2 separate regions of the Homo sapiens genome follow, and region 2 is linked to region 1. The links come from fine-mapping of genetic effects on gene expression. A gene starts in region 1. The other region holds a variant in brackets. All regions are shown on one strand. Distances are from middle to middle.

Region 1 (2,894 bases):
ACATTTTCTGTCAAACCCCTGAGGCCTTTGTCCTGTCGGCCTGAACCACTGGAATTAAGTCCCACAGCGTCTTCTGGGAGCCCTGGGGTGGTTTCAAGCCCGCCCTGCTGCTTCACAGACACAGCCAGGCACTGAGCCCCAGGCCCACTGCCCTGCCCCGACTCCAAGGATATCCAGCCCTGGTCTCTGGCCTTTCCAACCACTGATGATGTATCATCGAATTCTGTCTGGCCCCTCAGGACTAGTTTATGTGCATCTTAATTTGGCTTAATCGTGGCCACATTGCTTTATTCTTGGGCTCTCTCCTCTCAGAAATCGATGAGTGCCGGTCTCAGCCGTGCCTGCATGGGGGCTCTTGTCAGGACCGCGTTGCTGGGTACCTGTGCCTCTGCAGCACAGGCTATGAGGGCGCCCACTGTGAGCTGGGTAAGAGGGGCCCTGGCCCCGCTGGGGTGACAGCTGCAGCACACTGGCCATGTGCCTGAGGCACTGGGTCCCCCGGACAGGTCTCTGTCTGGATGGCCAGGGTGGCCACTGCATGCTTTCTCGGGCCCCTGCCAGCTCTGACATCCAAGACAAAGATTTTACAAATATCCCTTCCTGCACCTCCCCAGGGGAGACTGAGAGCCCAGCTGAGAAATGCTGGCCTGGCTTCAGGGCGCAGAGAAGGTGGGCGTCGGAGAGGGCAGGTCACAGTCTCTGACACCTGGTCGGTGCTTCCAGCCAGTGGAGGGAGGGGAGGCCTGCCCCATGAGCCCTGCACACTCTTGTACCTCGCTAGGGCTCTAAGCCTGAGAAACGCAGGCTCCAGGGAGGGCAAGGCCCAGGGAGCCGTGCCCAGTCGTGGCCCTGGGGAGCCTCCCATTGCGGAGTGGCCTGGAGGAAGGCATGGCCTGGAGGTGGGGCTTTGCCAGCAGGCAGTGGAGGTGGCACGCCTCCCGAGGAGGGGTGGGTTTGGGGCTGATGGAAGAAAAAGCACATGTCCTGAGTAGTTGCTCCCAGCTGGGAAAGGGGTAACTGAAGCCCCAGGAAATGCACGGAATCCTGGGGGCATGTGGGCGCCTCAGACTTGAGCCAGCAACACCCTTGACACCCCTTCTCTGTGCAGAGAGGGATGAGTGCCGAGCTCACCCGTGCAGAAATGGAGGGTCCTGCAGGAACCTCCCAGGGGCCTATGTCTGCCGGTGCCCTGCAGGCTTCGTTGGAGTCCACTGTGAGACAGGTAGGGGCTCCCTCCAGTGGGCCCCACATGCAGAGCCTGGGCCTCTGGAAGATCAGAGAGGAGGTGGGGCATCCCCACATTCCCTGCTGGGCAGGCCACCTGGGGAGAGGGACCCCCAGGGCTGCGGCCACCTTGGGAGGGAGGGGTGGAGGTGAGGGTGCTGGGGAGGGCTGAGGGGCGGGACCTGCCCACTGCCCCTCTCTCCTGGCCTCCGCCCCTAGACTCCTCCTTTCCCTTCTTCCCGCTGTCCTCTCCTCCCTCCCCCAGACTCCCCCCTTGCAGCTTGGGCCCACTCTCTGGGTGTTCTCCAGAGGTGGACGCCTGCGACTCCAGCCCCTGCCAGCATGGAGGCCGGTGTGAGAGCGGCGGCGGGGCCTACCTGTGCGTCTGCCCAGAGAGCTTCTTCGGCTACCACTGCGAGACAGGTAGGGCGGCAGGCCTGCCTGCTCCCCGCCCTCTGCCCGCCTGCTCCCCGCCCTCTGCCCGCCTGCTGCCCGCCCTCTGCCCGCCTGCTCCCCGCCCTCTGCCCGCCTGCTCCCCGCCCTCTGCCCGCCGCCTTGGAAGTCCCCTTCTCAGGCCAGTGGCCCTCCGCCTGTCTCCCTTGGTCCCACAATGGTGCCTTCTAAACCTCCCCATCTCCTGCGCTCACCCCCCAGACACCCCTCTTCACCCGAGGACACACCCAGGGGTGGGGCCTCACGTCCACACATAGGCCCTGCTGCCCTTGGACAGGCCAAGTTTCTTGCACACCCAGGTCTGGCCCCTGGCTGTCCTTCCATCTGGAACATTCTCCCTAATCAGCCCCCAGTGGGATACCTCCTGATGAGGCTTCCCTGACCACTGACCTCCCCTCCTCAAGCAGGACTGTCACTGGGGTGGTGGCCTGTCCTGTCCTGATCCAGTGTCTCCTCCCCTCAGCCAGTCCGGCTGGTGGCACTCCGCTGTGGAGGGTGGAGGAGCTGCTGGGTTGGGCCCCGCAGGGCAGTGGAGGTGGCAGAACCGAAGGGAGGCAGTAGCTGTCCTGTGCCCCCCGCCCCTCCACACCCACGCAGGAGGGACCCAGTGCCCCAGGAGCAAGGGCGGGGCTGGAGCAGGGACCCCTGGCCACGCCCCAACATACACTGCCACTTTTTCTCCCCTCAGTGAGTGACCCCTGCTTCTCCAGCCCCTGTGGGGGCCGTGGCTATTGCCTGGCCAGCAACGGCTCCCACAGCTGCACCTGCAAAGTGGGCTACACGGGCGAGGACTGCGCCAAAGGTGGGTGGCGAGGGCGCCTCCAGTGAGGGAGCCACGAGGGGGTCCCCTCTCCCTAGAGGGCCCAACGGTCTCCAAGGGCAGAGCGTCTGGCCGCTGCTTGCCCAGGCCCCTTCCCTGAGGAACAGGGAGGGGATAAAATCCCCCGGTGGGCTTGAAACACGGTCACACATTCAAAAGTGTGACCCTCCTGGAGGTACGTGGCCAGGGACAAAGAAGGACTCTGCCAGCGATGGCTGTGTCAGGCCCAAGAGCCAGACCCGGCTGAGCCGCCGACGGGAGCCAGGCATGCATAGCTAACGGCTGACCAGTCCCCTCCCCTTGTTTTGACCCAAACCCTGAAGAGCTCTTCCCACCGACGGCCCTCAAGATGGAGAGAGTGGAGGAGAGTGGGGTCTCTATCTCCTGGAACCCGCCC
Region 2 (2,894 bases), 850 kb before region 1:
TCTACACAGCGTCCCTGGGTGGAGATTGGAAACCCTTGCTGAATGCAGTGTGTGGCCCCACCCCTTGCAGGAATCTGCATTTCATGGACAGAGGGGTCCCCCCTTGAATTTCCAGTCTTAGCCAGTATTTTCTTCTCCATATCCTTGCATTGACCTTGGCATGACTTCTCGAAACTTTGTGTGAAGTGTCATTCTGCTTTTTCTCCTTGGCACAGGTGGGGCCAATAGCAGCAGCCCCTCCCATACGTTTGCAATGAGTGGGGGTGTGGGGTGGTTGGCTGGAGCAAGGGGCCAGCGACTCCTGGAACACTGAGTTGGCCTTTCCTCCCAGGTTCAAGGACGGCTCCACTACTACGCAGTGAGGGTCACTGGCCACAGGGGAGGAGGGCACAGTCAGGCGTGGTACCCAGGCCACAGAGGTGCCCTCGTCCTGGTTCTCCACCAAAGAGTTCAGGCCCCACTACAAAGCAGTGACTGTTCTGAAGATGAGAGACGAAGGGTTCCAAAGAGATGCAGAGAGGGGTGAGACCATGGTCCTGTGGGCCCAAGAATGCAGGGGACTCTGTCCTTAAAACTCCAGCAGGGGGTGTGGTGTGGGTCTCGCCTCTGCAGTGGTCTTCCCCACTGCCTGTTTTTCACCTTCTTTCCTGACTCAGGACCAGGCAAAGCCCTGGGGAGAGGAGAAAGGGGAGGAGCTGGTGCCTGTGCCCGGCTGTCAGGACACGAGAAGGGGCAGCAAGCAGGGCACCTGGCCCCAGCTCTGAGCAAGTTGTCCCCCCGCAAGCTGCCCAGGGGTGACGTGCACCTCCAGACAGGCTGACAGCTGTACTTGCACCTCCGGATAGGCTGACGGCCCTATGCCCTAGGTTCCAGAGTGTGGCAGAGATGGCTGGGTTGATTTTCCTGGAAGCGTTTCTGCTGACCCTGCTGAAATGGACAGGTGGAGTATGTTCAGCAGGCAGCCGCCCACCTCCCTCCCCAGGGCAGTAAGGCCAGGGCTGGGGAGGAGAGTCTTCCAGAAAGTCACGCGCGGCTGCACCCAGCCCAGGATGTGGCTGTGCCCTGCCGGGGGGGCTTCTCTGCAGGGCCCAGTTGGCTCTCCAGGGACCTTAGGTTCTGGAAAACAAGAGGGTCTCATGGGGTTCTGGAAAACAAGAGGTGGCTGGTGTGGATGGGGATGTCCTCCTGAGGCCCCACAGGAATAGCCCCCGGGTCACAGTGGGAAAAAGTAAGTCCCTCCCAAAGTGGCCACCCCAGGCAGCCTGGCCTGCCTCCTGGAGTGCCTTGGGTCAGGGGTCAACAAGCTGCTGCATCCCGAGAGCCAAACCTGGGCCCCCGTTTCTTGAGTATCTGCTTGAATGACCCTCCCCTTCCCTGCTCATCCCTGGGCCCAGGAGAAGCTTCATCATAGGCGGTTAAACTGCACCTGTGCTCGGTACTGAGCCACTCTCCAAGCCACACCTGCCTGGCCAGGGCCTGGAGCCTCAGCCAGCAGCCTCAGGCCCCAGTGTCAGGACCTCCCTTGGTCCTGCAGGGAGGCTGGGCCTTTCCTGGGGTGGGCCGCCCCTGAGG[C/T]GGGGGCTCCCATCCACCACAACCTGCACTTGGAAGCTCCAGAGGGGCAGCCACAGGGAAGCCGTGGGGTCTCTGCCCTTGGCTCCTGGACGATTCCGGATCTCCAGGCCAATGTGTCCAGCACGGCAGCCTCCCCACCCAGCCCCATGCCCTCGAGAGAATGACCTCGGATAAGCAGCGTTTCTCAGGGAAACCCCCAGGACACCCCCTGCTCTCCGAAGTTCTAGTCTTTCCCTTCACTCAGAGTAATGGATGTGTGTTTTCCTTAACAATTCCATTATTAAAAGAAGTTGTTCAGGGATCTCGCCCCAGAACAAAGCAAGCCCTCAGTGGGCCGTAGGGTAGCCTGCTGTCTCCCCCGGACAGGTGCACCGGAGCTCAGGGTGGACAAGGCTGGCTTGGTCACCAGGCCCAGGGGAGACGGTCAGCACCCTCTTAGCCGCACAGGAGGGGGGTAGGGAGAACGCTCCAACCTTACTCCCAGTCAACTGGAATCACCTGGCATGATTTCAGCTCACAGATTTAAAAAAACTGCCTGTGAGAATATTGTCCCTGTGTGAGGGGAGGGTCTTGCTATTCCTGGACCCAGTGTGTCCAAGGGAGGGAGAGTTGGGCCTCTGTCCCCCTGGGGTCCCCAGCTGCTAGGCAGCTGCACCTGGGATCCTGCCCACCAGGGAGTAGGAGGCTGCTCCCAGCTCTGTCTCCAGATCTGGGTCTAGTGCTGTGTCCGAGCCCTCTGCTCCCATAAGCCAAGGCCTATGGGGACTGGCCTAGGGTGAAGGAGCCTTAGTCCTTGAAATACCAGACCTCATTTTGAAACATGTGAAGGAGCTGCAGCAGAGAGCACTGGCTTGCGTCCCGGGAGGCGGCTGTACGTGGCCAGCATGCCTCACAGGAGGTAATGGCTGGTGTCACTGGCGTGGCTTAATGACAGAAGTCTGAGGTTTTACAGGACAAAAGGAATTGGGGTTCGTGCATCCAGATGTTTCCCCAACACATGCAGGGACTGTCAAGACCAGGAAGGGGGGACACAGAGAGCAGCAAAGGGGTCACTGGGAGTGGTAAAGGGGCCACTGGGGGTGGTTCTTCAGCCAGGCCCAGCCCCTCCAAGCCCCCCCAGCCCCTCTGAGCCTCTCCGGGGGGATCCTGGGGGCTCCTCTCCAGGCCACTGGATTTCCCAGCACCTGGCCCCATGGAGCCCGGGGCATGGTAAACCCGCTACACAGACCTGCCTGCAGCAGGGGCACCTGGGCTGCCTGCTTCTGACCTTGATGTGATTTGTTTCGATCAGCTGGTTGTTCACCATGCTGAGTCTGACTGAG

Direction of the effects. Positions count from the first base shown, and alleles are read on the strand shown. Sizes are in standard deviations (SD) of each study's normalised expression.
For the expression in amygdala of the gene that starts at base 1,640 in region 1, allele T in region 2 goes with a higher level than allele C (moderate effect, 0.62 SD a copy in GTEx).

Evidence for each region.
Region 2: its variant is fine-mapped to the expression of SNED1-AS1 in amygdala (GTEx, PIP above 0.99).

Annotation. Positions count from the first base shown.
Region 1 is chr2:241,062,479-241,065,372 of GRCh38, forward strand. SNED1-AS1 (SNED1 antisense RNA 1) reads right to left here and starts at 1,640. Exons shown (of 3, transcript NR_187212.1): 1 at 1,602-1,640. It overlaps SNED1 (sushi, nidogen and EGF like domains 1), which reads left to right. Exons shown (of 32, transcript NM_001080437.3): 17 at 313-426; 18 at 1,109-1,222; 19 at 1,534-1,647; 20 at 2,366-2,479; 21 at 2,821-2,894. It also overlaps a transcript of MTERF4 not described here. RefSeq lists a silencer at 1,589-1,748.
Region 2 is chr2:240,210,950-240,213,843 of GRCh38, forward strand. LOC107985836 (a long non-coding RNA gene) reads right to left here. Exons shown (of 3, transcript XR_001739238.1): 3 at 453-670. Among named protein-coding and RNA genes, the nearest start is that of OTOS, 72 kb to the left of the region's middle. The variant C/T (reference allele first, on the strand shown) is at 1,573.